Regions from separate parts of the Homo sapiens genome. Here all the other regions are linked to region 5. The links come from fine-mapping of genetic effects on gene expression. A gene starts in region 5. Each other region holds a variant in brackets. All regions are shown on one strand. Distances are from middle to middle. Region 1 has its middle 31 kb from the start of OR10G7. Region 2 has its middle 15 kb from the start of OR8D2. Region 3 overlaps VWA5A (von Willebrand factor A domain containing 5A). Region 4 overlaps VWA5A (von Willebrand factor A domain containing 5A). Region 5 holds the start of VWA5A (von Willebrand factor A domain containing 5A).

Evidence for each region. PIP is the estimated chance that this variant, and not a neighbour inherited with it, causes the effect.
Region 1: its variant is the best candidate, but not a certain one, in a credible set for the expression of VWA5A in whole blood (INTERVAL, PIP 0.77).
Region 2: its variant is the best candidate, but not a certain one, in a credible set for the expression of VWA5A in whole blood (INTERVAL, PIP 0.58).
Region 3: its variant is the best candidate, but not a certain one, in a credible set for the expression of VWA5A in iPS cells (HipSci, PIP 0.60).
Region 4: its variant is the best candidate, but not a certain one, in a credible set for the expression of VWA5A in blood mononuclear cells (TOPMed, PIP 0.89).

The regions. Positions count from the first base shown.
Region 1 is chr11:124,070,139-124,074,767 of GRCh38, forward strand. No RefSeq gene overlaps it. Among named protein-coding and RNA genes, the nearest start is that of OR10G7, 31 kb to the left of the region's middle. The variant G/A (reference allele first, on the strand shown) is at 2,414.
Region 2 is chr11:124,333,086-124,337,714 of GRCh38, forward strand. No RefSeq gene overlaps it. Among named protein-coding and RNA genes, the nearest start is that of OR8D2, 15 kb to the left of the region's middle. RefSeq lists a silencer at 726-924. The variant A/C (reference allele first, on the strand shown) is at 2,505.
Region 3 is chr11:124,133,555-124,138,183 of GRCh38, forward strand. It overlaps VWA5A (von Willebrand factor A domain containing 5A), which reads left to right. Exons shown (of 19, transcript NM_001130142.2): 12 at 1,366-1,480; 13 at 2,575-2,739; 14 at 3,020-3,120; 15 at 3,461-3,714. Among named protein-coding and RNA genes, the nearest start is that of VWA5A, 20 kb to the left of the region's middle. The variant C/T (reference allele first, on the strand shown) is at 2,069.
Region 4 is chr11:124,147,654-124,152,282 of GRCh38, forward strand. It overlaps VWA5A (von Willebrand factor A domain containing 5A), which reads left to right. Exons shown (of 19, transcript NM_001130142.2): 19 at 1-68. Among named protein-coding and RNA genes, the nearest start is that of OR10D3, 33 kb to the right of the region's middle. The variant A/G (reference allele first, on the strand shown) is at 2,503.
Region 5 is chr11:124,112,838-124,117,466 of GRCh38, forward strand. It overlaps VWA5A (von Willebrand factor A domain containing 5A), which reads left to right and starts at 2,613. Exons shown (of 19, transcript NM_001130142.2): 1 at 2,613-2,645; 2 at 3,729-3,843.

The DNA.
Region 1 (4,629 bases), 43 kb before region 5:
GAAATGCAACATTTGGACCTGAAAGCAGGAGTGCCTGTTCTCCCCTAGTTCCATGGGCACAGGTCCAGGGGTGGAGCCCTCCCCAGGGACCCGCCGTTCTCCTCCCAGCCCTTCCTTGCCCCCTCCCATATCAGTACTGTGCAGAAAAATTGAATTATGAAATTATAGTGAAAAGGTCATTACATGTTAGCCAGTTCACATTTTCTCCCAGTGGAGAACCCACTCTGCTTGGTCCCTCATGTCTATTTAGCTACCTTCCGTAGAGCAGAAATCTTACACCGCCAGCATAGTTTGTGTCACAGCTATCATATTCACACACCCTACTTCATGTTATGGAATAAAATGGAGCCCTAACCAAATTTGTTTAATTATACAAAAATAAAGTTTAGTTACTTTTTTGAGGTTCTTGCTCTGTCTCTCGGGCTAGAATGCAGAGATACAATCCTAGTTCACTGCAGCCTCAACCTTCTGGGCTCAATCGATCCTCTCACCTCAGCCTTCAAGTAGCTGAAACTACAGGCATGTGACACCATGCCCAGCTAAGTTTTATATTTTCTGTAGAGACAAGGTTTTACCATGTTGCCCAGGCTGGTCTCAAACTCCTGGGCTTGAGTGATCCTCCTGCCTTGGCCTCCCAACGTGCTTGGATCACAGGTGTGAGCCACCACACCTGGCCTAGTTCCATTTTTAAAACTGTTTACTTGCTGACATATCTATTTGCTGAAGGTTTTAGAATGCTCTTGTCAGAATAAAGTTTAAAAAAAGGCTGTAATTATTTTTAATAATTTTATTTTTGTAGGTTTTCACATTTTGAATGTTAATTCTTGTTTCAAGAGGATTTCTGATTATAAGTAGAATATCCTTTTGTGACTATGAGAGTGTGTGTGTGTGTGTGTGTGCGTGTGTGTGTGTGACTGTTCTCATGGTGGAGGCGTAGGAAAGTAATAGTAATAGTAGTGTTCTTTCATAGTGGCCTCAGATGAGGAAGTGGGAAAGACTATAAATATCTTTCCTGCTTATAGCATGTTAAAAAGCACTTATGTGTGAATCAGCAAAATACCGGGGTTCTAACAGTGGTTCCACTAATAATAGCCTGTGTGGTCCTGAATAAATTATTTTGTCTCTATGGCTTTAGTTCTAATATTTGTAAAATGAAGAGGTTGAACTAGATCATTTTAGAGGATTCTTTCACATCTACAAATTGTGTACCATTACAGGAATTTTCATTTACAGGAAGATGTTCATGACTTTGGGGAAAAAAAGTGTCTAGAGGTCTTCTAATTTCTGATTTTGGTAGGGCAATGATATTTCCATTTCCAGTAGTACTCTTGATTTTGAAATCCCGCTCTTGAAACAGGACTCCGAATTAAGGTGAAATACCTAACATCGGCCGGCAGATGGCACTATTGGGGCACCGACAACCAGATTCCTCTTCACTAACAAGTAGCTTGCAATAAAGACCCTGGAGCTGAATCAATAGGATAAAGAATGGTTGAAATTATTATTAGAACTGTGTTAGAGAGGTCTGTGATGCTTATGATTTCTGATGGCACCACCATGTGCTATAGTCTTTCTAGAGAGCCAGTTAAATAACCAGTCAATTGCTACCATTTTTACCAATTGGTGTCAGTAGACCCACGACTCTTTGTGTGTAAACAGCCATTGGGTTCACAAGGTGTTTCAGGTAAGAATGGAGAAAGTCTTGATGGAAATACAGCTGGCAAAGGTCACAGGACCCTGCCTGTGTTTACAGACTGCACAAGAACCACTTGGTGCTAAAAGCACGTGGCCGACAGATCGGCTTCAGCACGTACCTTCATCATTCCTCTTCTGAGCTAGCAGAGAAGGGAATTTGACTTCTTTTTTTTTCCTTCCATAGAGCGGGGCTTGAATTCCTTTGGCAGGGAGTCCCCAAAGTTAATTTTAACCCAGGAAATTGTGCATTAATAACGTGATACGAGTTTTGCTTTCAACAAAAGAAAACAGAATAAAAGGAATTTCCCAGCTACAGGATATTCTGACTATTCTGTGACATACAGTTTGATAAAACTTACACTAAATCTGACGGAAAGGTTTGTTTGTGATGGAGAAGGAAAGAGAGAAGTGCTTGTCCTTTTGTCTTATGTAGTCCCGCAGGAATACACTGACTTATTTCTACCTTTTCCACATCTTTTCCTTTTTCTTTCTTTCTTGTTTTATTTATTTATTTATTTATTTATTTATTTATTTATTTATTTATTTTGAGACGGAGTCTCTCTCTTGTCACCCAGGCTAGAGTGCAGTGGAACGATCTCTGTTAACTACAACCTCCACCTCCCAGGTTCAAGCAATTCTCCTACCTCAGCCTCCCGAGTAGCTAGGATCACAGGCGTGCGCCACCACGCTTGGCTAAATTTTTTTGTATTTTTACTAG[G/A]GACAGGGTTTCACCGTGTTGGCCAGGCTGATCTTGATCTCCTGACCTCATGATCTGCCCGCCTCGGCCTCCCAAAATGCTGGGATTACAGGCGTGAGCCACTGCTTGCGGCCTCCTTTTTCTTTCTTCTATTTTCCCATAACTCATACATATTTTTGTTTCATTTTGCTTTACCTAAAAGATCTCTGACGTATATCTTTTCCTTTCTTCTCCAAATCAAAAACGCTAAGTAAACTTGAAACTGATAGAGGTAAGAAACAACTTACTTTCTCCTCCATTTTAATTCCTGGTTGCAAGTAAAAACATCCTATTATATTCCTCATTTTGCATTTGTTAAAATTCCTCCTGCGCTTTTCACTATTTTCAAAGTTTTAAGTTTCTTTCTGTGAAAACTTGCTTATCTCCAGATCTTAGTCTTAAGATTTTTTGCCTTTTTTATTAACAATTGCTACCAATTAGGAATCTCAGAAAAATGAAAGAGAAAAGATTTCCCCTTCCCGTAACACCATAGCAGTAAATAGCATTTGGAATTGTCAGAACCTTTTTGATAAAATGATGTAGGAAAACATTCACAAAACTATGGGCCTTGAGAAAATGTACGGTGTTGCACTTCTTTTCTTTATAATTTTTATAAAATCGTCCCCTTGAACTTTCCTTAATAATGCAAACTTTTAGGACACTCACCTTGATTGGAAAAATTGTTCTACGTCCTCTAAAATGTAATGCTTCATCTCTAAAATATGTTTTGCTATCTGGTTGTTTTAGTTAATAATATGTTACCTTAGTTTCAGTTTTTACACATAAATTTCTATTTTTCTGAAACTATAAATACTCCAAAGAATTCTTTTAGACAGAACTATTTTCCTCTTCTTGGAACTACCTTTGCAAAGATTAGAACACTAGCCGCAGCTACTCAGGAGACTGAACAGGAGAACCGGGAGCTTGAACCGGGAACCAGAGGTTGCAGTGAGCCGAGATCGCACCACTGGACTCCAGCCTGGTGACAGAGTGAGTCTCCATCTCCAAAGAAAAAGAAAAGAAAAAAAGAAAATGATGGCAGTGAAATACATCTGATCTAATGAGCCTGATGGAGGGCAGGAAAGCCCCAAAATTGAAAGCTTAATCCCAAACTTATGACCATCAGAAAAATTTTTAACAAGTAATATAAAAAGGTTTTCCTTTCACAGTGATGTAAAAATAATCTGGGAAAAGACATAAGAATATAACTATGTTCCTTTGCGTTTATAAAGCAGGGAAATAACCAAGATTATACACATATGAATGAACCATACATATGAAATAAGTGTCTTAGTTGAGATGATAGTTTAAAGTGATTGTTCATTAATGTAAACTCTTAAAGAAAAATATTTCTATTAATGGGTTAAGAATAATTTGACTTATTCATAAAATGAATTTTTATAGTCATTCAAGTTGAGGCAGCTATCTGTTACTGATGTGAGAAAAAGCTTTAGGGAATAGGAAAATTAGAGTATAGTATCATAGCTATAATGTTATTTACTTGTGTAAATTTGTGTGTGTAGCATATGCGTGTGTCTTTGGTGGAAAGATGATCACCAAATTGTTGAGTGGTTATTGCTCGATAGATTTCAGTAGATTAAAAACAATTATTGTTTGTATTTTTCTTTATTGATAGTATCTTTACAAATTCAACATTAGCACATTTCAATATAAAACATTAAATTGTTTTATCAGAAAAGGGTCACAATCCAGACCCCAAGAGAGGGTTCTTGAATCTTGTGCAAAAAACAATTCAGGACAAATACACAGAGTAAAGCAAAAGCAAGTTTATTAGGAAAGTAAAGGAATGAAAGAATGGCCACTCCATAGGCAGAGCAGGACATTCCCAAAAGCAAAAGGAAGAATTACGTCCACCTTAGGTACAATGCTTGTTTATATATAAGAAACAAAGCAAAACAATTGTGGGGAAGGTCTACTGTTAGGGGATCTTTGGGGTGTCACTTTTCTGACCGGAAACATCTGTGACCAGTGGCGCCTTTGCTTGAGATTTGGTGGGGCCCACTGGGCTCATTCTGCCTACTTGGCCTTGCAGGCTGTGCTTGGCTGACGCTACTGGCCTTGATCCCATGTCTCCCAAGGGCGAGTAAGGTGGGAGCGGTGAAGGGTATGTGAGCAAGTGTGAGGTCTGGCCACTGCACACAGTCAGACAGGCTGGTTGCTGCAGTGGGGTGGGCAGC
Region 2 (4,629 bases), 220 kb after region 5:
AGCATCTTTGTCATCTGTATCCTGCTCAGAGAAGGACAAAGAGAAGGTGGAAATGGCACACATTTGCCTTGAAACAGTGTGCATCACGTCTGGAACTCAGTCACATGCAAGAGCACACTGCAAGAAAGACTGGGAAATGTATGTTTTGGAGGAAGATTGAACAGCAGTAATCTCTGCCACACTGGTATATAATGATAGTTATATCATTATATACCAGTGTGGCAGAGATTACTGCTATGATATAACTATCATTATATCAGTGTCTGCCAATTATCATCAATGTGAGATTAAATAAGACATTAAATGTAAAAATGTACTGCTCACCCTGGAACTTAGTAAGAACCAATAAAAATCAGGATTTATCTAGGCCATTCTTGTTTTTTTATTTATTGTATTGGCCAGAAGAAAATAAGAACATACTCACGTATTCTAAATTGAACAACAGAACTATGAAATATGAAATATGAAGAATACTCGTAAGACATTTTTTCTTGAGTATTTTGCTTTTATTTGTATTTCAAGACATTTTTATTTACTAAAAATAATATTCATAATTAACTGATTTTTAAAGTAGAAAAATTTTGTATAATTAAAAAGAAAATAAAATCCTGATCAATTTAGAATCCAACACCCGAGTCCTGATCCCAGCTCTACCACCTGTATGTTGTAATCTACAACAAGCCACCAACATCTCTGAGCACCACACCTACCATCCGTGGGACTGAATCTGGGATTCCCTTGCTCATTTACCTCCCACTTCTTCCTGAGGAGCACAGGGACTGACAGATGGGACAGTGTAGAGGAAACTGTGCACAACTCTCCTCCAAAGACAAACTACAACACCTGGACACGTCTCTATATTGATGTTTGTAGTGGGTTAATTCAACTCTATGGCAGAAAGACTTTAAACAGTGCAAGTGATTCCACCAGCCTCCTCCTCACTGAGGACGATTAAGTCTCTGCCCTCAAAGGGAACGCTTCTATCAATGAGTGATAACTTAATGTTTAAAGGTATTTCTTGGCAGGGTGCGGGAGCTCATGCTTGTAACCCCAGCACTTTGGCTGGTGGATCATGAGGTCAGGAGTTTGAGACCAGCCTGGACAACATGGTGAAACCCTGTCTCTACTAAAAATACAAAAATTAGCCAGGCGTGATGGCACATGCCTGTAATCCCAGCTACTTGGGAGGCTGAGGCAGGAGAATCGCTTGAACCTGGGCGGCAGAGGTTGCAGTGAGCCGAGATCACTACTGCACTCCAGTCTGGGTGACAGAGCAAGACTCCGTCTCAGAAAAAAAAAAAAATAAAGAAAGTATTTCTTTTGCACAACAAAGCCTGCAGATAAACTACATGCTTGATCTGGTGCAAAGCTTAATTAACAGTGAGTGACATGTCCTGACGCTAGAGAGAAAAACCGACTGTGCCAGACTTATGGGATTTCTCAGTTTTAGATTAGAACATATTTTTAAGTTTATCTTTTCTGAAAATAAAACTGATTTCATCTGCATTTTGAGGGTCTTCACATGAAAGATCAGTGACCCAGTTTAATCCACCTCTTTGGCCATTTCAAACAGTGATAAAATACATAAAGTATGGACACACCTCTGAAATGTCCACCGAGTACCAACTAGCACAGATATTATTTACTTATTTAAATACATTTTTTAACTAAGGAAAATAATTTTATCAAAAGGGACAGCAAATAAAAGAAATGGTAAAAATAAACCTCCAACCAACTTCAGCTATTTTGTAAGAATAGAATTTGTTAAGGGTTAAATCAGGCATGTTGATACCAGGATCAGCAATCAGGAATGAGCAGCCATTTCAAACCATAAGTCAAAAATTTAGTAATGCTGAACATCAAAAACAATAAGCCAACAAAGAAGTTAGGATGAATTTTTTAATACCAAAATATTGAGTAGAGATTATAAAATGGAAAAATAGTAAATATCGTTATAGTTATGTTAGAAAATAGTTGTCCATTTCTATATAAGATTGATGATTTTTGAGTAGTCATATTTTTGTCTGATTTCCCAAAGGAAAAATAATCTACCCTCCTATTCCAGAAAAGACTGATACGATTTGTTAAATTTGGTAAATCAATTTTTTTTCAAATTATCATATCTCTCTCAGCTACAGTTTGAGGTTTTCATAGCTTAAAATCCATATGCAAGGAACACATGAAAACCAAGAAAAGCAAGTGTGATTTGGCTGTTCCTAGGACTCCCAGCCCTCTGGAATTAATATCAAGCAATGTCATCTTTTACACCACTAAGATAAATCCTATGATCTCCACAATTTCCTAGAGCCTCCAAGGAGAGGAGAATTCTAAGTAAGGGATTTCATTTTCCATCATTTTACTTTCTAAATTGTGTCTTCCTAAGTAGAATTTCAAACACCACTCATTATTTTTTTTATCAAGAAGTTGTTGCTATTCCTTCTCTACCTAATTCCTCACAAATGTGGCCACAGCTTTTCCATTTACATTCCCCAAATAATAACACC[A/C]TGTGCATGTTATAATTGTTATCGAAGCTTAATGGAGAGTACAAGATACGGTGCTCCACAGAATAGAATACAAATTCAGATTACTCGCCAAAATTAAAAATAATTTAAAAAATTTAAAAATAACAGGAAATGAAAGTGGTTTCTACAGTCTTACTGACCATTCTCTACAGAGGGATCTCATTTATCAGCCGTGTGTCTCTTTGAGTCCTTTCACTCCCATGCTTAGATCTATCAAATAAATGATCCTGATAACATTTCAAAGTCATTTTTTTATTTTCCGAAAAACTCACCTCCTGTTTGACTTTTTTAAATTATCTTTAGCATATATTCTTTAAGAAAGAGTATTCGTTTAACATTTAAATGTATTTTGAACCAACCCAAATGTCCAACAATGATAGACTGGATTAAGAAAATGTGGCACATATACACCATGGAATACTATGCAGCCATAAAAAATGATGAGTTCATTCATGTCCTTTGTAGGGACATGGATGAAATTGGAAACCATCATTCTCAGTAAACTATCGCAAGAACAAAAAACCAAACACCGCATATTCTCACTCATAGGTGGGAATTGAACAATGAGATCACATGGACACAGGAAGGGGAATATCACACTCTGGGGACTGTGGTGGGGTGGGGGGAGGGGGGAGGGATAGCATTGGGAGATATACCTAATGCTAGATGACGAGTTAGTGGGTGCAGCGCACCAGCATGGCACATGTATACATATGTAACTAACCTGCACAATGTGCACATGTACCCTAAAACTTAAAGTATAATAAAAAAAAATGTATTTTGAGGCTAACAGTAAAAAAAATTAATTAATCAGTAATTAATTTAGTTTCATAGATGAAGAAGCCACAAATACCAAGAAACATATTTGCAGATAAAGAATTCATCCAATTTGAGATATGCCATACATTGGATAATTCTTATATTGATTATTAAAAGTGTGCCATATTTTACTTTATGGACTCAATTTAAGATTTCTTTTTTTTATTATACTTTAAGTTTTAGGGTATATGTGCCCAATATGCAGGTTTGTTACATATGTATACATGTGCCATGTTGGTGTGCTGCACCCATTAACTTCATACTAGCTTAAAAGATGTCCTCTTTCCCAACAATAAGAACCGTCAAACTGTTTTCCTAAACAAGCATAAAAGAAGCGATACACATTCTGTTAGACATTTATGTATCATTCTGGAACAAAGCACAGTCAATTTCCAAATTAGAAATGTTTTCTTATATTCCATATTAACTGAAATAAAAATAGTAAAACAGAAACAAAATGTACTAAGAAGAGCAGTGGACTTGAAATCAGAAGGCAAAATGTTTAGTCTAGACTTTTTCATTAAGAAGTTGTGTGACTAAGTAAATCATTACCATGAAGAGCTTCACTTTCCCATCCATGTAATAAATAAATGTCCTTCTTTTATGTGCTGGTTTGTGTGTAAAAATAAATAAGAAAACTATTTGACCAAAAAAAAGCTTAATCTATGCTGTTTAAAGCTGCAAAGTAGGTTATACTTACTAGTCCTTAAGAAACTTTTCATCTCTGGCTTTTTTTTTTTTTTTTTTATTGTTACACTTTAAGTTTTAGGGTACATGTGCACAATGTGCAGGTTTGTTACATATGTAGACATGTGCCATGTTGGTGTGCTGCACCCATTAACTCGTCATTTAGCATTAGGTATATCTCCCAATGCTATCCCTACCCCCTCCCCCGACCCCACAACAGTCCCCAGAGTGTGATGTTCCCCTGCCTGTGTCCATGTGTTCTCATTGTTCAATTCCCACCTATGAGTGAGAACATGCGGTGTTTGATTTTTTGTCCTTGCGATAGTTTGCTGAGAATGATGGTTTCCAGTTTCATCCATGTCCCTACAAAGGACATGAACTCATCATTTTTTATGGCTGCATAGTATTCCATGGTGTATATGTGCCACATTTTCTTAATCCAGTCTATCGTTATTGGACATTTGGGTTGGTTCCAAGTCTTTGCTATTCTGAATAGTGCCGCAATAAACATACGTGTGCATGTGTCTTTATAGCAGCATGATTTATAGTCCTTCGGGTATATACCCAGTAATGGGATGGCTGGGTCAAATGGTATTTCTAG
Region 3 (4,629 bases), 21 kb after region 5:
GGCTTGAAACAATTTACAGTGGCATTGCTGTGAGCAGAACTTTCCTAGGGTGTTATATTTTAAGTCAGAAGTCATTGATTTAAGTTACAGTTCTTCTGCTTGCCTGCAGAAGATGAATCAGCTCATCTCTCCATGCCTTAGTTTCCTCACATGAAAATTAGAAACCTAATAGTACTCACTTTACAGATTTATTGTTATGGTTAAAAGAGTATACTTAGGGAAAGTATTAGGAACTGTGCTAGATAAAAAGTAAGTGCTATATAAAATTTTGCTATTATTGTAATATTTTAATTTTTATTATCATCCACATGCAGCACTGTCGTGAGTTCTAGTTAGTCATCAATATATTTTTGTTGTTGTTGTTTGATTGTTTAGAGACCGGGTCTGTCACTTTGTTGCCTAGGCTGCTCTTGAACTCCTGGCACTGGCTTCCCAAAGTGTGAGCCACCACACCCAGCCAATATTGTTTAGTTTTGATTTTATACAAAAGACCTTAAAAATATAACAGCACTTTATAACATAGGCTACAATTCAAAGATCATGTTAGAAATTTAAAGGTTGTGATATCAAGATGCTGTCAGGCTATAGTATTTAGGAAGTATTGTTACACGTAGGTCCAGTTAGAAGTCTGTTCCTGAGTCTTACAAGCGTAGAGCATTGATCCTAATGCTGATGCCACTAGACTTGGGGATGATGGCTCACACTAAGAAAGACTGATACATAAACCAAAATTGCAGGGTATTAATTTACAATGAAAACTCTGTCTGTCATGCCTTCCAAAAGCGCCTGTGCTAGTACTACCAATGTATTCTTTGTTTATATATAATTCTATTTGGGAAATCGCATTATGTTTAAGAAGTTACTTGGTGCACATGGACTAAGGCAGGGCAAGAACTCTCCATTTAGAAGTGCAGGAGGCACACTTCCTTTCTCTAAGAATAGTCTTGCTAGGGGAGATATGGTACCAGCACATCATTAGGTAGGAACTGGTGTTAGTTTCTATCTTTCTGTTAGTTTGCCAGAGAGATCTTGCAGTAAGACAGATCAGTGCTCCAGTGACATTGCTATCATTTAGTAGTTGCATGATCTTGGAAAGATTTCTTAAATTTCCTGGGCCTCCATTTCTTATCTGCAAAGTGAAGCAGAAGCCTGCCTTTTAGGGGTCTTGTGATGATTAAATTGCATCATTGATTTAAGGCATTTTTATACCTCCTAAAATATAGAATATGCTCAGTAAATGGTAGCTGTTACACTTTTGGTCAAGAAAGTAGACTATTTCCTTATGTATTTTTGGCCATTATGTATTAATTTTATATTTTCACTGTTTAATGCCTTCCTCTAACCTCTGTCCTGTTACAATTGCAGGTGTTTCTCATTTGGTATTGGAGAAGGCACCTCCACCAGCCTAATAAAAGGTATTGCCCGGGCATCAGGGGGCACCTCAGAATTTATCACAGGCAAAGACAGGATGCAGTCCAAGGTGAGGGACAGACTGACTGTGTCTGTCTGGAGGTGGCAATCCAGACCAAAGTGGAACGGGGTGGGGAACACTGTGTAAGGGCAGGGGTAGCAACTTTCCTCCAGGATACCTGTTCCTATATCCCCAAGGCCTTAGGCTGTATACTTAGTCAGGCTACTTTTGGCCTCATGTAATAGAAGCCCACTGTAGTATCTGGAAATATGACATCTGGTCCCAGTAGCTGCAAGCTCAGAGACAAGATGCTGACAGGGATCTGGGCCTTTGCATTTAAGACCAGACACAGACAAACTAAGAGCTTTGACTGTCAAGACTGAGATTCTAGGTCTGCGCTTTAGAACCTCTTTTGTACTACATGCATCCTCCATGCAAAAGATACAAAGAAAAGGAGAAGGAATAATCATGATATGTCTAATGGATCGGAAGAGGTAGTAAATTGCTATTCCATTTCATCTTTCTGCAAAAGGAGAAGACCCCTCTGGTGGTATTTCTTTTTTTTTTTTTTTTTTTTTTTTCTGAGACGGAGTCTCGCTCTGTCGCCCAGGCTGGAGTGCAGTGGCGGGATCTCGGCTCACTGCAAGCTCCGCCTCC[C/T]GGGTTCACGCCATTCTCCTGCCTCAGCCTCCTGAGTAGCTGGGACTACAGGCGCCCGCCACTACGCCCGGCTAATTTTTTGTATTTTTAGTAGAGACGGGGTTTCACCGTTTTAGCCGGGATGGTCTCGATCTCCTGACCTCGTGATCCGCCCGCCTCGGCCTCCCAAAGTGCTGGGATTACAGGCGTGAGCCACCGCGCCCGGCCTCTGGTGGTATTTCTAAGCTCCTCTTTCCCAGTAGGTGCCACCTTTATCTAATCCCCTTCTCCAAGGGTCTCGTTACTCAAACATTTTCTTTATTTACATTTACGTTACTAAATATTTCAGCTTTGGCTTATTCATATGCAAAGCTTCTTCATATATAAAGCCCATCTCCTAGAATAGTATTGAGGAGTAGGCATGACATGTATTATGTATCACATCTGATACATAATAAATGTCCAGTTAATTGTAGCTGCCATTGTCTGTATCATTTGTGTTTATTCTGTTCTCTTCCCCACATTAGGCTCTCAGGACTCTGAAACGCTCTCTGCAGCCTGTGGTAGAGGATGTCTCTCTGAGCTGGCATTTGCCTCCTGGTCTGTCTGCTAAAATGCTTTCCCCAGAACAGACTGTCATCTTTAGGGGTCAGAGATTAATCAGCTATGCCCAGCTGACCGGGAGGATGCCAGTGAGTTCCCATTCTTATTTGTTCCTCTAGTCAAAGAGCTACCACATGACCATTCCACTAAAGCTGGTAGGTGGATTTCAATCTCAGCCAGAGACGGCACTTGCCAAGTATAGCTAGCCTACTTCCTTCCCATCATTTCAGGTCTCCGGTTTCCTAGGCTACCTGATTCTTCATCAGATATTTTCATACATTGTTTTGGGTACCTGCCCCTGTTCTGATCCTTCCATGGATGATCAGAACATTACATGTTCCGTCATTTCTACTCATCTCTAATTTGCAGGCAGCAGAGACAACAGGAGAAGTATGCCTCAAATATACACTCCAGGGCAAGACTTTTGAGGATAAGGTGACATTTCCTCTACAACCCAAGCCTGATGTCAAGTGAGAATTCAGTTTTCCCTTCCTTCCTTCCTTCCTTCCTTCCTTCCTTCCTTCCTTCCTTCCTTCCTTCCTTCATTCCCTCCCTCCCTCCCTCCCTCCCTCCCTCCTTCCTTCCTTCTTTCCTCTGCCATCTTTGGGGATTAGATTTCTTCTCTTAATTCTGGGCTCCATTGTAATTGTTTTCCTACAATCATTTTTTATTTCTAAACCACCCAAGTCTTCTCTCTCCCCTTATCTGACTTTATCTTAACTCTTCTATTCCTAACTTTTAGGAGCCCTGAGAAACTGGTATATGGATGTCTTTCCCTACATTTCAGTACTTTTTTTTTTTTCCTTTCAGCCTCACCATTCACCGCCTTGCTGCCAAGTCCTTGCTCCAGACCAAGGACATGGGCCTCAGGGAGACTCCAGCAAGTGATAAAAAAGATGCATTGAACCTTAGCCTTGAGTCTGGTGTCATAAGCTCCTTCACAGCTTTCATTGCTATCAATAAGGAGCTCAACAAGCCGGTTCAGGGGCCTCTGGCTCATAGGGACGTCCCAAGGCCAATTCTGTTGGGTGCTTCTGCCCCATTGAAGATAAAATGCCAATCAGGTAATGAGTTTTATTCCATTCAAACTCATATAGAATAAAAGATTCTGACTATCTGAGCACATTATTTAAAGGAAAGGGCTGTGAAATGTTCTCAAATTGCTTTGTTTTCCTTATACCTCCACATCTAGGATTTCTGGTTAGTGTTAAATTTTTCTGTCCCAGGGAACTAGAATGCATCCCATTGGCAAGGAGATTTAAAATAATCCAAGAGAAAACAAAAAACAAACATTAAAATGTAGAAAGTGCAGGTAAACCCTGAGTAACCAAACTGCCTAATCTGAAGCTGATTTATCTTTTTTATTGAGATATAATTCAAATATCATACAATTCACCCATTTAAAGTGTACAGTCCAATGGGTTTTAGTATGTTCACAGAGTTGTGCAACCATTGATTGCCACAATCAATTTTAGAGCATTTTCATCACCTAAGAAATAAACTTCATAACTATTAACAGACATTTCCCATTTCTCTCCCTGACCCCACCTATCTTCTCCTCCACTCCCCTCTCCACCAGTCCCAGTAATCACTTACCTACTTTCTATCTCTATACATTTGCCTATCCTGTCTTTATATATTTGTTCTGGACTTATTTTCCTTCTTTGTTTTTGAGACAGGGTCTCACTCTGTTGCCGAGGCTGGAGTGCAGTGGCACAATCATGGCTTACTGCAGCCTCAACCTCTCAGGCTCAAGCAATCCTCCCACCTCAGCCTCCTGAGTGGCTGGGACTACAGGTGCATGCCACCATGCCCAGCTAATTTTTTTGTATTTTTCGTAGAGATGGGGTTTTGCCATTTTATCCAGGCTGTGGCTGGCTTATTTCACTTGACATAATGTTCTCCAAGTTCATCTATGTTGTTGCAAATAACAGAATTTTGTTCTTTTTTATGGCTGAATAATGTTACATTGTGTATAT
Region 4 (4,629 bases), 35 kb after region 5:
GCACATTGAAGTTTGAAAAGTAAAGGCTTAATATTTTCATGAAATAGGCTTATATCCAAGCCTGCCATCTAGATAGGCCCTACCTATGTAATTTCAGAAAATAGTTTCTTAAGGACCGTGAAACTTGTATAGTTAACCTCTGTGCACACAATGCTGTGACTTTACATTTATTATGCGGAGCGCTTATCGTTTACCTCCTTTTTTCTCACCCTTCAACTTCCAGACTGGGGCTTGTGGACTTAGTGCGGGGCGTTCTAAAACAAAAACTAAACGAACTAAAAGAAACAAAAAAAAAATTATCAACCTGTCTTTTGACCTCTTTAAAATAAGACAACTACAGTTTTAAAGTGGCGTGGTTTTATTTTTCCATTTGGGCTCCTGCACAGTGAAATGTTGTGCCAACTGTAAATTCCTCGAATCTAAACAAGTGTCAGTCTTCATAATCAGCAAATGGCATTTTGGCACATTTGTTGAAACCCCATTTCAAGTCTGATGCTTTATGTTTTGGGAAAGTATAAAGAACCATCTGTAATTTCAGAAACTGGTGGTCCAGGCAAGGAGCCCAGGAGAGAAGCTGTTCTCATCTCCCATTAGTTGCCTTTATCTAGTGCTTGTTTCCCCCACAGCAGCAGACTTGGCCACAGGAAAAGTGGCAGATACCATTCCCTCAAGATTCTTCCACTCAAACAGGCCAGGAGCTCCCCTGGAGGGTTCTCTGTTCTACACAGACTTACTAATGAAATCCATCCTCCGTCTTCCCCAACTCTAACACAGTCCCACTCAGGGTCACTGAGCATCTGCTCTTCCTCTCCCAACTCACAGCAATTCCTTCCTTAAAAACAGTCCATCTGCTTTCTGGAGTATCTGATTGACCAGGAGAAAACCAAAAAAAAAAACCCATGCAGTGAACTGTGTATTTTATCAGTTTTTACCTCATATATTTTGATATTCTCCTAAGTGCATATACATTTAAAATTATCATACATCCTTGGAAAATTGACTCTTTTATCATTATTTAATGCTCAACTTTATTCCTGATTTTTGTTGTTGTTGTTCTGAAGTTGGCTTTGTCTGAAATTTACGTAACTACTGCAGCTTTCTGCTGATTGGTTTTGGCAGGGTGTATCTTTCTCCATCCCTTCACTTTTAGCCTATATGAGTCTTTTTATTTAAAGTGGATTTTTGGAAACAACATGTGGTTGGGTCTTATTTATTTGTTTTTGTTTGCTTTTAATCCACTCTGGCAATCACTACTTTTAAATTATCGACCCATATCATCTATATTTAGAGTAATTATTGATAAAATTAGGTTAATATCTACCATGTTTGTCAACTGTTTACTATTTATTGCATTTTTTTCTTTTATTTTTTCATTTTTGCCTTTTCTCACTTTAACCAGGCATTTTGTGTGATTTCATTTTATCTCCACTCAATATATCCATCATATTTCTTAAGAATTTTTTTAGTTTTAGCTCTGGGGTTTGCAATATGCATTTATCACTAATTTAAGCCCACCTTCAAGTTACACTATATCACTTTACATGTAGTGCAGTTACCTTATAACAGAGTATTCCTAATTCCTTCCCATCCACTATGACATTGCTGCCATTCATGTCACTTATGTCTATATTTTAACTACCTAATTGTTACTATCATAACTTTAAACAGTTATCTTTCAGATCGATTAATAAGAAAATGAAAATACATATTTCACTTTTATTTATTTCTTCCTGACATTTCCTTTCTTTGCATAGATCTGAGTTTCTTACCTGTATCCTTTTTCTTCTTCCGGAAGAATTTGTCTTAAAACTTCTTGTAGAACAGATCTGTGGGCAATGGATTCCCTTAGTTTTTCTTTTTGTCTGGGAAAGTCCTTATTTCTTCTTCACTTTTGAAGCATAATTGTGCTGAACTTATAGCTCCGTGTGTGTGTGTGTATGTGTGTGTGTGTGTGTCTATTTTTTTTTGAGACAGATTCTCGCTCTGTCACCCAGGCTGGAGTGCAATGGCGTGATCTCGGCTCACTGCAACTTCCACCTCCTGGGTTCAAGTGATTCTCCTGCCTCAGCCTCCCGAGTAGCTGGGACTACAGGCACATGCCACCACACCTGGCTAATTTTTTTTATTTTTAGTAGAGACGGGGTTTCACTGTGTTAGCCAGAATGATCTCGATCTCCTGACCTTGTGATCCACCTACCTTGGCCTCCCAAAGTGCTAGGATTACAGGCATGAGCCACTGCGTCCAGTCGTCTTGTCTTTTAACACTTTAAATATTTTACTTCAATCTCTTTTAGCATGAATAGTTTTTGGCAAGAAATATGCTGTTATTCTTTTTCCTCTATAGGTAAAGTGTTCTCCCCCTCCTGCCCCGCAGACTTTTGGGATTTTCTCTTTGTCTTTGGTTTTCTGCAGTTTGAATATTATATTTGTAAATGTAGGGCCTTTTGTATTTATCCTTTTGGTGTTATTTGAACATTCTGAATCTGTAATTTTGTGCTTTTC[A/G]TTAATTTTGGAAAATTTTTGCTATAACTTCAACTATTTTTCTGCTTAGTTTTTTCTTGTATTTCAATTGCATGTTACACTGTTTGAAATTATCCTGTAAGTTTTGAATGTTCTGCTCTGTTTTTCCTATGTGTTTGTTTTTTATTTTGTTTTTGTTTATATCTTTACATTTAAGTTTAGGAAGTTTCTATTGGTCTATCTTCCATTCCAGAGATTCTTTATATAGCCATGTGAATGTGTGTTTGTTTTTTATTTGGTTTTTGTTTTTATCTTTACATTTAAGTTTAGGAAGTTTCTATTTGTCTATATTCCATCCCAAAGATTCTCTTCCAGGTTTGTAAATGTCAGCAGTGACTCTGAAGTCACCTGTCTCTCAGGATTTCAGAATGACTATTTACCTGTGTTCTCAGTTTCTAAAGGGTACAGATAAATGAGTTTTGTATTATTCCATTCTTGCATTGCTATAAAAAGAAAACCTGAGACTGGGTAATTTATAAATAAAAGGTTTAATTGGTTCACAGTTTGGCAGGCTATACCAGAAGCATAGCAGCTTTTGGGGAGGCCTCGGGAAACTTAGAATCATGATGGAAGGCAAAGCAGCTGGTGTCTTCATGTGGCCAAAGCAGGAAGACGAGAAAGAGGAAGGAGGTGCTACCCACTTTTAAACAACCAGGACTCGTGAGAACTCTGTCGCAAGAACAGCACCAAATGGGGAAATCCACCCCCATCATCCAATCACCTCCCACCAGGCCTACCTCCCACACTGGGATTACAATTCGACCTGAGATTTGGGTGGGGACACAAATCCAAACCATATCATGTTTGTTCAGCTTTTTCTTGTGGTAATGGTGAGAGTGATGGTTTCCAAACTCTTTGCATGTTATAGTTGAAACTGGCCTCCATGTAGTCTGATCTACCAAATCTCCACACTTCACTGACCCTTCATTTACAGAACTGTACTTTTTGGAATTTCAGAGGTAGAAAACATTCTTTTTTCTATTGTGGTCTATCCAAAGTTAAAAGTTTGGGTTTGTTTGTTTTGCACATAAACCAGTTTTTATTACTAAGTGATGTAACAAACAGACATCCTTAATGGTGAGATATGAAAATGAGGTGAGGTGTGGGGAAGAATTCAGTAATGCAGTGAGGGTCAATAAATAGACAGAGTCTCAGGTAGGGATGAGGGTATAATGTTAGGCAATTCTTCTTAAATAATAATAAGCATAGTCATAAAGCTGAAAGTGGAATTGTATAGAAATATAGTCAGGCTTACTTTTAAATATATATATATTTAAAAGTATATATATATACTTTGTCAGCGATCAAGCTCTATATAGACTTTAGAATCCATGCCTTTTTTAGTCTTTATTTCACTTTAAAAAAAAAACAGCTTAGTGAAGTGTAGTTTATGTACTGTGAAATCCATTCACTCACTTTAATTCTTTTTTGAGGTACTGTAATTAACAGTTTAACATTCAGTGGATTTTTAGGGTAAAGACGCTTAAGCTTACAAGCATGTTTTCTGCTTTACTGAGGTACAATAGACAAATAAAAATGATCACTCTGTCTTTTGATTGGAGAATTTATTTCATTTACATTTAAAATAACTATTGATAAGTGAGGACTTATCACTGCCATTTTAATTGATTTCTGTTTGTTTTGTAGTTGGCTTGTTCTTCTCTTGCTTTCTTCCTGTATTTGATTTTTTTTTGGTAGCAATTTGCTTTGATTATTTTCTCTTTATGTTTTGAGACTTTTCTTTGTGGTTATCTTAAGGCTTTCATAAAAATAGCTTGTATTTATAACCATCTATTTTAAGTTAGTAACAACTTCAACTGCATACAGAGACTCTATGATTGAAAGTATTATTATTTTTTGCTTTTAAAAATAAAAAATGTGAAATAGCTACTTGTTTTGAATATTAAGAACAAAGATTATAATACTTTATTAATAAATTAGCTGAATTATCTGATTTTGGGAGAATCTGTAATCACTAATAGATAAAACCATTAAAATGAATGTTACAGATACAATTAATACACAGCTATATATTTTCCATTTTGTACCAAATATTTATACAATAATCATCTTATAATAATGTTCAGGTGTAAATAAATATATGAATGA
Region 5 (4,629 bases):
TGAGCTTTTGAAATCTATTCTCCAGTATCTATAGTGGATTGCAATCACAAGACCTAAGCGTATATACAACCACTGGGATTTGTATGTATTTATTCATTAAACAAATAACTTCATGACTTTTAAAAACTTACTTTCTTAAAGGTTTACAATTTTAAGAGCACATAAAGGGCTCAAGTATGATAAAAACGGCAGGAAGTTTTAGGTGAATTGCTATGGAAACATCAGAGGAGAGAGAACAAGCAGAACTGGACACTTAAAACTCCATGATGATAGAGAACATTGAAGAAAGAGAATAACAGAAATGAGACAATGACCGAAACGACTTATTGAAAGCCTGTTCTGAACCAATGCTAAGCACTCTATGACAAACAGCCTTTTTATTTCAGGAAGGGAAATGGCTCTCAGAAGAACTGAAGAAAAATAAGTAGCAAACTATGATCAACATAATCAACACACACCGGCATAATTCAGGGCACATGTGTTACAGTGGTGGGCGCTAAAATAAATTGGATATTGTTCTCATAATATGCAGATTTCTATTTCCATTATAAGCAAATGTGCTTTTCATATTCTGAAGAAGATAGTTTCCTTAAAAGTCTACTTTTTAATTAATCATAATCAAATGTATTAGGGTAAGATAAGGACCCAAAGAGCTGTTATAAACCATGGAGAAATTTGTTACTTTATCCTGTAAAATTCTGTGATGATACAGTGGCTTGCTCTATGAGAGTCTCAGGGGCTCAGGATCTTTCTGTCTTGTTGCTTCTCCATTTTTAGGGGAAATGCTCCAGGCTTTATGATCTAGTCTTTATGGTTCAAGCTGGTTCAGTTACCTGCATTCACACCAATGAGCAGGAAGAGGGTAAAGTGAATGGGAAGCCATCCTCTTTTCTTTGAAAGGGCATGACATGGTGTTGCACTTATTTCTTGTACCCTATGGGCCAGAGCTTAGTTACAAGGCCACACCAGCTTTAAGGGAGGCTAGGCAATGTTTTTATTCTGAATGGTCATAGACATTGTGAAACTTGGGGTTCCTGTTAGTATAAAAAAGAAGGTGAGAATCAACCTTGAGGAATGCCTGGCAACACTAAGACAGACTTTTAAGTGAAGATATCTCATCTATATCGGTTTAATTGTGTATATTGTGCTAGGTTATGGGAATTTTCACATAGTTGTTTTTTCAACAACCAGCAACTTCTGTGTGTTTCCTGATTCAGTGCCCTCTAACCACGCTGCATGCCTGGTCTGTGGCAGACTTTTAGTGCTAAGCTCTAAGCCCAGCAGGATCAGATGATGAACTCTGCCCACGTTTCCAGCTCCTCCCTTTTGTTGCTCAGATGTTTCGGCCAATGGAAAGAAGGCACAGTCACAAGGAACAATACCAGACATGATTTCTCTCCAGAGAAAAGGATAATTTCCTCTCATAATTAGTTCAGTACATGTAAAAAACATGGTTGTAGGGCCTAGTACTGATAAAATAGAATTTGTGCTTATATTATGCTTTACTATATATGCATATATTACATGCATGTAACTGTATATACATGCATGGGTGTACATATATACACATATATACATCTATGCATGCACATCCATGTATATAAATGTGTATGTGGGTGTATATATATAAAGTATATAAATGTGTGTGTGTGTGTGTGTGTGTGTGTATATATATATATATATATATATATATAAAACTTTTATAGCCACTAAGATTCATTAGATCTCACAAAAACAATCAGTGGAGGTTTGTCATTATCCCCGTTTCAGATGAGAGAACAAATAACTTGGGGAGAGTTATTTGTATATAACAAATATCTCACAAAAACAAGTATATAACCAGTATATAACAAGTATATCCACAAAAAATACATCACAGAGACCAAAATCAAGCTGTGTTTTCCATATGTATCATGTATTCTTTATCCTATAGATTCTCGACAGCAATATGACACTTTAAGTCTCAGATTTAATAGGTTGTTTTGAAATAGAGAAGCCATGGGGACCTTGATCGCTTCTAATGTCCTTTAGCCAGGTAAATGAGCATAGACATTCTCAGTTACTTACATCGTTAACCCAAACATTTGGTTTCAGGATCCCATAAGCGACCCATGACAGGAAGACTTGGGCTTCCCTGGCTAGAGCTTCTCTCATTAGAGCAGATGTGTGTGCCTTGCACTATCTCCTTATCTTTCCCCCTGCTGTAGGGGAGGGGCAACTTGGGGGAAAATGACTCACATTAGAGATAAGGTGTCAATGATATAATCTCCATAAAGCTTTGATTAACAGGGCCCAGGACACAGTAAGCCTTTGGCAATTAAGCTTTTACAAAAATATGCAGTTTTTAATGTCATTGTTGTTGTTCCTGTTGCAGCATTTTCCCTTGCCCTCTTTGCCTGTTCTCTGATTGTTCCTTAGCAAAGAGCAAAGAAAAAAACCAAACGTTCCAAAGTCGAAGACTTTTCCTTTGATACAAACAAGCGAAAGTTCGATTATTTGTTCAATAATTTTCCGTTGATCCCTTAGTCTTGTAGTCGCTACTTTATAACCGGTCCCTAGAAGGGGGCGGTTCTTTCCGGAAATTATGACTGCAGCTGTTTTCACTCCGCTGTGACTCAGAGCGCTCCGGGCTGCAGGAGAGGAAGGTAGGGGACCAAGCTACCGGTGCAGGGCCTGGATCCAACCCCTGCTCTGGAAGACTGAGAGCTCCACATTCTAGCTCCCTTTCCCCAGTCCCCAAATTTGTAGGGGCTCCTTGAATTGCACGCCCCATGGGTGGAGGATTTCATCCTGATGTATGATCCCCAGGAAGGTTCCTGCAAGTTTGGCAGTTTAGGGGAATCTTTTGGAGGTTGAAGGAGGGATTTAGCCATCTCCTAATCTCAAGGCCCTTCTTCCTACTTTCCTTCTCTTTTACTTTACTTTTTTTCCCGCTTTCTTTCTTTGATATAGACAATTGATGTTTTCTCAGTTTCAGGATAGTGTAAGCTGAGGAAATGAGGCTGTAAGCCTCATCTACTCCAATCAGTTGCAGCCCCTAAGCCCTTCTCTATAGAAATGTAAGAGACCGACGCAGTCTCTTCTGTAAATACGTGGACATTGGAAATCTAGGACTGAATGGAAAGGTTAAATCAATCTCTGATTTTATCCAAGCCCCACTTCTTACCCCAAATCTCCTCCTTGTCTGGTTCCGAGTTCTCCACTTCACCCCTGCCACAGGCCGCAGGGGTGTGTGTGGCCGGTGGTGCCACCCAGCTCCCCTCCCACCCTCCTAGCTGCTGAGCGGCTGGTGCTGGGACTCTGCATTCCTGAAGCAGCTACCTGGCTAGGCCGGAAGCCTTGTATTCTCCCAGCTGCCTCAGATTCATGGCTTTCAGCTTGGTGGCCAGTCTCTACCTAAGCCTTGCAAGTTGCCTTTCTGAAGTGCCATCCTGAGAGACAGAACTAATTCTGACCCAAACTAATTTTGTTTGTACTGGGAAGAGTGGGGGCAAGGGTGCAGAATAGCAAGTTTTCCTCAACGGAGGATTTGTTCTGAGCTTAGAATCAGGAAGCGAAGGCTATTTCCTTGTAGGGGTGCCCTTTGCGTCTCTCTCTCTTTTACTCTAGCCACCTTGGTGAGTATTGCCCAGCCTGAGAGCTTCTCTTTCAGCTGTTTTACTCCTGTGTGAGTCTCCTGCTTTAGGCTCTCTGCTTAATGTGTTATTAGAAATTCTTCCCTCCCCCAGCCCAGCCTGTTCTACCAGAGAACTTGCCCAGGTCAGAGGTCTGCGTAGAAGCCCTTTTCTGAGCATCCTCTCCTCTCCTCACACCTGCCACTGTCCTCTGCGTTGCTGTCGAATTGTGAGTCATTTTGCCACACTCAGTTTTTATCCAATTTCTCAAAATAAAAACAGATATGGAATGAAAAGCCTGATTTATTGGTGCTGTTTAGTGGGGGTGCAAATGTAGGCTATGTGCCTATATAATATTTAAATATATTAGAATATCTTGGATGGATACAAACAAATATACTCGTATCTTTTAATTTTGGGTCCCAAAAGAAAAGCCACAAGGTAAATGGCCTGTGGCAGGAGTCCATCTTGAATCACACAGCTTCTCACATGCAGCGCGTCTCTGAATGCCATGATCCAAAGTGAATGGTGGCAGAGGTTTATTGATTAACAGTAACAACAATAATAGGGACAATAGTGATGTCTGTCATCATTGATTAAATGCCTCCTATGGCCCATGTGCTATTGTAGGGACTTCACATGTATTAATTCACATACGATGTGTGGATATTATACTACTCATTTTGGAAAGAAAATACTGAGGCTCAGAGGGATTAGTGACACCTACTCCATATGCCCAAGGAGTGGTGAATTAAATACACTTTTGAGAAAGTGGAATTGGTATTTGAACCAGCCTCAGGGTGTTTCAGAGATTTCCTGTTTAGTAGATACCAGTGAATCTTACACCTTCCCCACCTGGGACTGCCATTTAAAAGGACCCTTATGACTGAAATCTTTGTCTCCTTTTTTTTAAAGGTTCCAACTTCCTAACTCCAACATTAACCCTTTGAATGTATTCTTATGCCAGAGAAAGGCACATAAAGTACTGGTGTTTGAACAGATAACTTCCAACATG